Linked DNA regions of Homo sapiens: region 2 is linked to region 1. Evidence: fine-mapped expression QTL. A gene starts in region 1. The other region holds a variant in brackets. All regions are shown on one strand. Distances are from middle to middle. Region 1 holds the start of SLC12A7 (solute carrier family 12 member 7). Region 2 has its middle 30 kb from the start of TERLR1.

Evidence for each region. PIP is the estimated chance that this variant, and not a neighbour inherited with it, causes the effect. A credible set is the group of variants that fine-mapping cannot tell apart.
Region 2: its variant is the best candidate, but not a certain one, in a credible set for the expression of SLC12A7 in nasal epithelium (TOPMed, PIP 0.54).

The regions. Positions count from the first base shown.
Region 1 is chr5:1,110,155-1,115,360 of GRCh38, forward strand. SLC12A7 (solute carrier family 12 member 7) reads right to left here and starts at 1,909. Exons shown (of 24, transcript NM_006598.3): 1 at 1,714-1,909. The coding sequence starts at 1,837.
Region 2 is chr5:1,145,958-1,151,432 of GRCh38, forward strand. It overlaps a transcript of SLC12A7 not described here. Among named protein-coding and RNA genes, the nearest start is that of TERLR1, 30 kb to the right of the region's middle. The variant C/T (reference allele first, on the strand shown) is at 2,394.

The DNA.
Region 1 (5,206 bases):
ACCGGGCCCTTTCTGTGGAAGTAGGAAGCGGGTCCAGCACAAAAGCGCCAGGTGCAAGTTCTCTGCCAGTTCGGAGAAATCTCCCAAGTTCAGCTCACACCACAGGGCCACCCTCAAAAGTGTCCAGAAGCCCACACCTGGCCCATGCCCTCCCGTTCTCAATTTCATGAAGGCCAGGGAGCCTCCTGACACGCCCGTAGCAGGACCTGAGTGCGCGGGCAGCGACATGGGCAGCGCTCAGCCAGGGCCACTTCCTGCTGGGCAGACACAGGCCCAGGGCACTGCTCAACAGCCTTGAGAGTAGAAGAGACAAGAAAACGAACAAGCACAAAATTCTCTCTGGCTTAAAAGCAAATGACACTTACAGTCTAAAGACAAAAGTGAACCTGATCAGCCTTGAGAAGGGGCCGGCCAGACAAGAAGAGGCTCCTTCTGAGTGCGTTCCGGGGGCGTTGCTACAAAGCTCACACAGAAAGACCACGCCAGGGCCCACACTCCTTGGTGCTTCCTGCCTCCACGGTGGTGACTGGAGAGAAGGGGCTTGGACTCACGGACCCTGCTTAGTTAGCACTTCACCTGGTGTTGAGCCTGGCGCCCCGCCTGACCACTTCCAAGATCTGGGCTGGCCTCTGTGCAGAGGAAGCTGAGACCACTCTTCGCCCGCCACGGGGACCCTGATGACGCACCCCAGGCCACCAGGCCACTGCCTTCACGGTGGGTCCCCACCCGTGTCTCCGGGTTCCTAAACTGCCTGGAGGGGATGTCTGGCCTTTCCTGCCCGGGATGGTGGGTTAGGAAGGATCTGGGGTCTGGCACCGGACTTGTCCCTGGACAGACCTCACCTTCCTTCCACTGCCAGGGAGCAGGGAGGCTGCCACCCACTGCATGAGACCCGGGCACATGCGGGCACTGCCAGCACGCGGGGTGGGGGCTGGACTGAGTCCGGACACCTTCTCAGAGACTCCGGATGGAAGGGCCTAAGAGCCTCCGGTTTCTAGAGGGGGCTGAGATCCGGGGAGTAACTGGGATTTGGAGCCAGGATGGAGGGAACAGGGCTGGGGGATTCTCTCCCCAGCCCCGTCCCCACCCCCTAGAGAAAGTGAAAGTGCTAGAAACCTCCAGATTCCCGGAACGGGGGACGGGAACACGGAGGACGCGGCCTGAGCAAGGCCCCGGTGGCTGCCCCCTCCCCAGCCAGGGCGCAGTCCTTCCTGTTCCGCCTCTGGGGGGTGGGCGGCTCCTCCAGGGTCAGGCGGGGGCAGGACGGGCCGGCCCGGGCTAGTGTTACCGGACGGCCGCGGCGCAGGGGAAGGGAGAGCGCGGGGGACGCAGGACGCCCCGGCTCCCGAACCGCCCGGGTCTCCACCGCCACCCCTGTCCCACTAGGGACCACCCAGGGGCCCGGGCTCCCTCCGGAGGCGCGCTCCAGCCCCTCCCCGTTTCCATGGCTACCAGCAGCGGCGTCCACACCTCTGCCCCCGGTCCCACCCGAGCTGACCGTACCGGGAGCCCTGGCAGGGCCCCTCGCCCCCTAGCGCTGCCACTAACGTGGGGTGGGGGCCCTCGTGGGGGACCGAGAACAGGCGGTGGGGGCGCGGGAAGGGGCGCCTCCTGTACCCCCGGCCCCGCCGCCCGCCTCCGCTCCCGGATGCCGGGCCCAGACCCGCGCTCGGGGCGCTCGGCCTTTGTCCGGCCAGGTGCGGCCGCGCTCACCCGGGCTGGGGCGCTCGGGCTCGGGGCCCTCGGGGGTGCCCGGAGCCTCCGTCCGCTCGGCAGTCTCGTCCCCGCCGCCGTCGGCGTGAGCCTCCACGGGCACCACGGTGAAGTTGGTGGGCATGGCCGCCTGCAGCCGACAGTCCCCGTCCCGGCCCGGCCCGCGCTGCGCCGCTCCCGCCGACGCCACGGGACTTGGAGGCAGGGGCGGGGTCCGACCGAGCCGCCCCGCCCCGCCCGGGCCACGTGACTTCACCTGCTTGCCCCGCGGCCCCACGAAAAGTTGGCCCGCGGCGACTTCCTGCAGGGACCCCAACCCAGGCTGCGTCTGTCTGACCGCCGCGACCCGGGACGCGGGGCTTTCGCTGCCTGCGCTCCCGACCATCGCAGAGCCCGCGAATCCCCGCTCAGTCTCCTGCACCCCCTCCTGCTCCAGCCCCCTGCCCCTCCTGCTGGAACTCCCCGCCCTCCCCGCCCTCCCCGGCCCCCTCCCCGCCTCCCCTCTTGTCCCCTTCCCCGACCCCCCACTCCTGCTCCAGCCCCCTGCCCCTCCTGCACGCCCTTCTGCTGGAACCCCTCACCCCTCCTGCACCCCCCCACCCTTCCTGCACCCCCTCCTGCTGGGCCCCCCTGCCCCTATGAACCCCCTCCTGCTGGAACCCCTGCCCTTTCTGCACCCCCTCCTGCTGGGCCCCTCCTCCTTCTGCGCCCCCTCCCGCACCCCCTCCTGTTTGCCCCCCATTTCCTGCTCCAGCCCCCTACCCCTCCTTCTTCCCCCTCCTGTTCCCCCCTGCCATCCTCCAGCACCCACCTCCCACACAGTCCGCCCACCCACTCCAGGCTGTCAACACCCGCTCAGACCCTGGGCTCCTAGCCTGGCTCCTGGCTAGCCCAACCTGGCTGCAAAGGCAACTCCAGTGGAAGGAGCCTTGGATAGCCTGGGGGTGGGGTACTCCGGAGCTTGGTCCAGCTCCAGTTTAGGGACCTAACCCAGTAGAGGGAGTCCCCCCCCCCACCCATGACAAATACCACCCACGAAGACCCCAGTCTCCTCCACACCTGCCCCAGGAGTGCCCCGCGGCCCCTGCCCTAGAACCCTCCCTTCCCTCCTTGGGAAATGTTCCAGAAGCTCACAGGGTGATGCAGGGAAGGTGGAGTTCCAGAACCCACCAGGCAGACACCAGGATACCACCGGCCAGCACCTGGCACATTTCTCAACAAATGACTCATGAAAAACGGAACAATCAGATGTCCGTCAATGGGGAATTGGGCTAAAATGCTATGGCACACAGGTGCAATGAGTCAGCCTTTATTCCTAATCACCCACAACTGCTGTACGACAACAAAGCAGAAACACAGGTGGTGTGGGCAAACACGGCCACAGCCTCTTGTCACGTGGAAAATGGGTATGGCCTGGCCATGTTTTAGCCGCTTGCCTGTCTAATCCTAAAAGGCAGCTGGAGGGGAGTGATGGCCTCCGGGCTGTGGGATCACCGGGCTCTGTGGGTTCAAGGAACGCAAGCCCAACCTCTCCAGCCATTTCCAGTAAAGCCAGTCATGCCCTGGGGTGGCCTAGGGTTCTACCCCTTTGCCCCATGGACTCTTCTGGGCAGAAGCTGTAGGCCTGGGACCCTCCTGGAACGTCGCCCATCCAGCACCAGCCCTTGCAGAGGTGGGGGTTCCTCTGGCCTGGGTGTCTGGAGCTGTGCCTGCTCCACACTCTCACCCCACCTCCCACCAAAGGGAGCTCAGGGCTGTGGATGGTGCTAGGTCAGCTGCCTCCCTGGGTCAGTGGGTTGGAAGGTAGGAAACCATCACCTCCCCAGAAGATAAAATAGTTCCCAGGCATCCTTATGAGGAGGGCTGGCTTTGCTAAAAAGATCCAGGGGGTGGGAACAGAAGTGCCCAATGGGGTCAATTATAGGGTTCACACTTAGGGTGCTGGGTAAACCCTCTCCTCAGTCACCCCAGCAGGGGCTTCTGTACATTCAACCCTGGTTGCCACCCAGCGCTATTCCCGAGGGTTGGACAGAGCTCAGGGTGGGCACGAGGCCTTCCCAAGTGATGCCAGCAGGAGCAACAGATGTGCAGGGCTCCCGTCGCACATCCAAGCTCTGCTTCACACCCCAGGACCCCAGGGCCGGCTGCCCGCCATGTGCTGGCTGTGGACCTTCAGAGGAGCTGGTTTGGAGGGTCTGTGGCCAGGGCCAGCTCCCGGACTCAGGACTCATCAGCTTCATTTTACAGAGGAGGAAACTGAGGCCCAGGAGTTTAGGGTCCTGTGGCAGCTCCGAGGGTGGTCTTCTCTGTGATTACAAAATCTTGACTAGGACCAGGGGCCATGGCTGAAGCACCTGGGTGGGTGCCCAGCCCTGCCAGGCAGAAGGCAGGTGGCTTCTCTTGTTTAAATCTTAGATCTTACTTGTGGGAGACCTCGGGTGGGGGGTGAGGTCTGCTGCCTTTTGCATTCTAATCAGGTGAGTCACGACAGGGATCAGCACCCTGTAAGCACCTGCGGGTCAAGACAGAGACCCTTGCCGGAGCCCAGAAGCCGCTGCAGGCCCCTCCCATCCCATCAGTAGCCCATCCCTAGGGGTCTGGTGGCCCCTCCCTTCGCTCTGTGGGTTTCCGTGTCCACGTATATCCTCCCACACGGCAGCCTGGGGTTAAATGTGCGTTGTGTGACTTTCAGTGCTCTCTTCCTACCCACCTCCATCCCTCTGTCCTTTTCTGTACCCGGCACCTGTTGTAGGAAGTGGCCCTCGGACACGTGGAGGTACCCGAGGCCTGGGTTGGAGCTGCATCTTTCGGTGCAGGCCTCTGCGTCTCCTGGAAGTGGGCACCTGGAGCCAGGGGACTGCTGGGATCCGGGTCCAGTCCCCTGGCAAGGCCGGGGGCTCGCAGAGGGAGCCACGCACTGTCTGGTGGTAGCTCCTCCGTCCGCAGTCGTTGGTGCTTGATGTCTGAATCGACAGATTCATGGAGCAAAATGGTGATTTTCCAGTGCGTGGTGGCTTCGTCATGAATTCACTGGAGGGAGAGGCTCATCTTGTCCGTCTGGCCATCTGGATAATGGTGCCCACAGGAAAGGCAGGGCAAGGGTGCCTCTCCCTCATTTGTCAGTTTCCACAACGGTGAATTGGTTCCCGACAATCTCCCAAGTATATTTGTACATCGCTGATGAAACACATTGGTGGGTCTCAGTCGATCACCATTAGTGCCCTTTCCAAGCATCGGTGTCCAGCTTTGCCCAGGGGGCCTCTTCAAATGCAATCTCGCATCCTTATGATGTGAGCCTGGTCATCTGCGATGGCCTCTTGGCCGTGTGCAGGGCACAGCCAGGGGAACCCTGGGATTTAGTGCGAAAGTGTAGCCGATGGTGGTTACATTCTGTGTGTAGATTCTCGAAACAGTCCCTGCTGCCTGCCACCCTGGGGTGGAGTTTCTAATGGATTAGGACGGACACCCAATGCCAGCTTCCAAGCCAGGAGGC
Region 2 (5,475 bases), 36 kb after region 1:
TCCTTCTCCAGAACTTCCTTTGCAAAACTGCAGCTCTGCACCCATTAAACTGACTCCCATTCCCCTCCCCCAGCCCCTGGCAGTCCCCGTTCTGCCTCCGTCTCCCAGAATTTGACAACTCCAGGCTCTGCCTGCAACTGTTATTCTGCAGGATTGACCTTTCTGTGTCTGGCTGCCCCATCCCTCCTCATTCCCAAAGGCTCTCCCTGGAACCTGCTCCCAGCAGGAGGGGCCATTCCCTGGTCACCCACCTTCTTGAGGCTCCTCTGGGAGAGTCTCCAGGTCTGTGATGAGACCTCAGGGACCTGCCAGCAGGTGGGCTTTTGGAGTGGAGTTGTGGGAGCCCAGATGCTGGTGACCCCTGGAGGTGACCACCTGGGCCAGTGACCACGGACCTCCAGGCCTGGGTCCCTCTGACCTGGCCGTGGAATGAAGCCTGGGGTGCCTGCATGTGGGTGGGAGCAGTGGTGGCCTGCTGAGAGGTGTTCAAAGCCATCTCTGCAGTGTAAACAAAAAATAAAATTCTAAGGCTCCTCCCCGACCGTCTGGATGGACCCCTCCTCTGGGCCAGGACACCCCAACGTTAACCAGAAAGACTGCTTCAGGCCACGACGGGAAGCGGTGGTCGGCCATGCCTCATGCCGCCCTCCTCCCTTTCGGAATTTAGGAAAAGCCGACCAGCAGTAACATCAACACAGACCTTAAGTCTGGTAAGAAACACCATACAATCTCTTCTCTCTGGAGCCTGCTACCTGGAGGCTTCACCTGCATGATGAAACCTTGGCCTCCACAGCCCCTTACCCTAACCCAGACAATCCTTTCTATTGATAGTAACTCCCAAACAATTGCCAATCAGAACATTTTTAAATCTACCTATGACCTGGAAGCCCCACTTGGAGCTGTCCCGCCTTTCTGGACCTGACCAATGTATATCTTAAATGTCTCATGCCCGCCTGAACTAAGGCCCAGCTGCACCCGCCCACCTCCCGAGGGCCGTGTCACTGCACAGTCACTCTGTGTGGCTCAGAATCAATCTCTTCAAATATTTCACAGACTTTCGCTCTTTTCATCGACAGGCTTATTTCGTTCACACAATGTCCTCAGCCTCCATCCATGTGGCAGTGTGTGTCTGAATTTCCTTTCTTTTGTAAACTAAAAACAAAATCCAAAGTCCCACAGACAAATGAACGGAACACCCCTCTTGGACAAGGGGACCCAGGGCAACAGGAAACACTAAATTCCCACGGTGACAGAAGGGAGGAGGGACTCTCCTCATCACGGCCCACCCCGCCACCCCCCCCGCCCCCGCCTTTAGGAGTTCAGGTGCAGCTGACCCACACTAACTCCAAAATAGTTATCCAAAGACGGCAGAACAGACTCTGTGGCGGTAAGACCCCAAATCCAGCCTGACCCTGGTATAGAGACCCACCGAGAGTCCCTCCGACCCGGAGAGACCCGCCGAGGGTCCCACACCCGGAGAGACCCGCCAGGAGTCCCCACACATTTGAAGGCCCTGCCTGCCCTCTGTCCTCTCGGGGCCGCCTCCTGGAGGCTTCTACGTCACCAGCACCTTGGTCTCCACAGCCCCTCAGCTGAAGCCAAGTGATTCTTTCCACCCACTGCAAGCCTTCACGTCTTCAGCTTAACTCTTTCACCCAAATACTAATCAGAAAACATTTAAATCTCTCTGCTCCCCTTCAAGATGTCCCTCATTTCCCACCGAATCAATGTATACTTTCCATGTACTGATTTATGCCTTTGCCTGTAACTTCTTTATTTAATTAAATTAATTAATTACTTTTTTGAGACAGGGTCTCACTCTGTCACCCAGGCTGAGAGTAGTATCTCAATCACAGCTCATTGTGGCCTTGACCTCCCGGACTGGAGCCTCAGCTTCCCAAGCAGGTGGGACCGTGGGTGTGCACCACCACGCCTGGCTAATTTTTAGAAAATTTTTTGTAGAGACGGGATCTTGCTATGTTGCCCAGGGTGGTCTTGAACTCCTGTAGGGAAACAATTCCCCCACCTCAGCCTCCCAAAGAGCTGGGATTATGCCTCGCCTGGCTTTGCCTGTAACTTCTGTCTCCCTGAAATGTATACAACCAAACTGTAACTGCCTCAGGCACAGGCTCTCAGGCCCTCCTGAAGCTGTTTTCTGGGCCATGGTCACTCACATTGGCTCAGAATAAACCTCTTTAAATATTTTACAGAGTTTGCTTTTTTTTGTTGATACTTTTTTCTTTCTTTCTTTTTTTTTTTTTTTTTTTGAGATGGCGTCTCGCTCTGTCACCCAGGCTGGAGTGCAGTGGTGCGATCTCCACTCACTGCAAGCTCCGCCTCCCAGGTTCACACCATTCTCCTGCCTCAGCCTCCCTACTAGCTGGGACTACAGG[C/T]GCCCACCACCACGCCCGGCTAATTTTTTGTATTTTAGTAGAGACGGGGTTTCACCATGTTAGCCAGGATGGTCTCTATCTCCTGACCTTGTGATCCACCTGCTTTGGCCTCCCAGAGTGCTGGTATTACAGGCGTGAGCCACCGCACCTGGCCTTTGTTGATACTTTTTAAGGCTAAATAATATTCCACTACATGTACTATCAAAATGTTATACAAAATTATAACAAATTTAGCTGTAGATTGAATTGGCCTTTATTCTCGATTCACGAATGGGGCAGCCTCAGTCGAGGAATGAGAGCTCCCCCTGGGCAATGGCCAACAGTGGGTTTTGTAAAGTGGGTACAGGGACACGGAACAGAAGAAAGGCTGACGGTTGACATCGGGTTCCCTCAGGTTCCTTGTTGTAAGGGTTAAAGCAGAGGGACTTCCTTTGTACACTGACCAGGTAGACTGCAGTCTCCTGTTTTCAGAAAAAACTGGTCAGCTTTGGGATCTATCTGCTTCCTTAAAGTTTCAGTTTGATGATGCCATTTAGCCTTCAGGCCAAACCAAAATGGAGTGATGTATTGGGGCCTGGTGTAGGAGCTCCATTCAAAACAACAGCTGCCCATAATTTTTGTTTAAAAGTACATGTCACATTTTATGAATCCGTTCATCCACCCACGGACAACTGGGTTGCTTCCACCTGTGTCTACCGTGAATGATGCTCCCAGGAACATGGATGTGCAAATGTCTCTCTGAGCCCCTACACCCAGAAGGGGGACTGTGGATCCTACGATGCCGCACCCAGAAGGGGGACTGTGGATCCTATGATGCTACCGTGTGAGCTTCTGACATCTGTTTTCCAGCCATGCCACTTTACATTCCCACAAGCAGCGCACAAGGGTCCCCACTTGTAACATCCTCACCAACACGGTATTGTCCATTCTAAAAATAAGAGCCTGGCCAGGCGCGGCGGCTCACACCTGTAATCCCAGCACTTTGGGAGGCCAAGGTGGGCAGATCACTTGAGGTCAGGAGTTCGAGACCAGCCTGGCCAACATGGCGAAACCGCATCTCTACTAAAAATATAAAAATTAGCCAGGCGTGGTGGCAGGTGCCTGTAATCCCAGCTACTCTGGAGGCTGAGGCAAGATAATCACTTGAACCCGGGAGGTGGAGGTTGTAGTGAGCCGAGATGGTGCCACTGCACTGCGGCCTGGGCAACAGAGAAAAACTCCCTCTCAAAAACAAATAAATTAAAAAAAATAAAAATAAGAGCCATTCAAATAGTTGTGAAGTGGTGTCTTCACAATTATTAGTGTTGATTTGCATTTCTCTAGTGATTAGGGATGTGAAGCATCTCTCCATGTGCTTATTATCATTTGTGTATCTTTTTGAAGAAATGGCTATTCAAGCCGGGTGCGGTGGTTCACATCTGTTATCCCAGCACTTTGGGAGGCCAAGGTGGGCGGATCACCTGATGTCAGGAGTTTGAGACCAGCCTGGCCAACATGGTGAAACTCCGTCTCTACTCACAATACAAAAAATTAGCTGGGCATGGTGGTGCACGCCTGCAATTCCAGTTACTCGGGAGGCTGAGGCAGGAGAATCGCTTGAATCTGGGAGGTGGAGGTTGCGGTGAGCTGAGATCGTGCCATTGCACTCCAGCCTGGGCAACGAGAGCGAAACTCCACCTCAAAGAAAAAAACAACAACAATAAAAACAGAGAAATAGCTATTTAAGCCCTTTTCCCATTTTTAAAAGGGTGTATTTGTTTGCTGTTGCTGTTGAGTTGTAGGAGTTCTTGGCATCCTCTGGGTATGAACCCCTCATCAGCTCTATGATTTGCAAATGCTCTCTCCCATCCCGGGAGCTGTTCTTCTACTCTGTGTGTGTCCTCTGATGTGTGTTTGCATTTTTTTTAGTCTGTGCTTGTAGTTTCCTCTGCCCCTCCCCCGACCCCGATAGAGCCATGCAGGAGCCGACATCCATGCACACACACCTGCCCCCTAACCCCATCCCTCATTTTCAGGGCACAGGCCTCGACCAGAGGAACAGAGGAGGCACCTGGGTGGAGCCCTGCACCAAGGCCCAAAGGCCCAGCCCACAGTGAGGACCCCAACTCATGCCACAAGCAGCTGAGCTGCAGGATCTCTTCCGAATATTCAAGTCTTTATTTAAAGAAAATTCTGGTGTATACATGGAGCTGGTGTCTCAAAACCCAGGTCCCCTCCAGTGGAAAAAGAAGCCAAATTAAACACTAAATAGCAAAGAACAGAAAGGATGGACATGCGTTCAAGCATTTTCTTTTAAAGCCAAAATTAAAATCACTGAGTCGAGACTTCTTTAAGAGCAAAGTGACAAAACGCAAGCTTGTCCTGCTCCACAGATAACTAGAGGCAGCTCATGGATGAACACGACGGCCGAGCTCCATGAAATATTTAAGCAAAAAGAAAACAGAGCCTGCCCCGTGGGGCTGGCAGGTTTTCAGACACCAGAACCAGTGGCCTCCGCCTGGGATCTGCACACCACGTTTCTGAGTGGCCCAGGAGGGCACGCAGAAGCAGCCTGGTGGTCTGATTTTCCCAACAAGGAGAGCATGCAGCCAGCTGAGGACATGGGATTTTCCTGAGGCTTTCCCCCATCAGAAGGCAAAGGCTGAGGGGGCAGCCCACTCTCCTGTGGTCCACGGATGGGGAGGGCGGCCTTGGGAGCTGGACGGAGATGGCGGGGCCAGAGCCTCACTGCTGTGCCAGCAGGGTCTGGGCCCATGGGTGGTACCCAAGGATCCTCCTGTTCCAGATCCCCGGGATCCCAGCTCACAAAGCTCAGGCTTGCAAAGGCGCCTTCTACCATGAGCGTTGCTTCCCAGCCAGAGCAGTTTCCAAGGCTCAGGCAACGAACTCTTCACCTTCTCCTTAAGCGGCAAAAACCCAACACGCTCCACAGAGATGCAGACATCCACTCACACACAGAGACACACAAAGAAACCTCAGCCTGGCCTCGGCACACATCTCATTGAAGATGTCAGTGGGCGCCGTTGCTAAGCTGGCGTCTGCAGGGGCCCGGCCTCTGCCAGCCCCAGCACTAGGGGAGGGT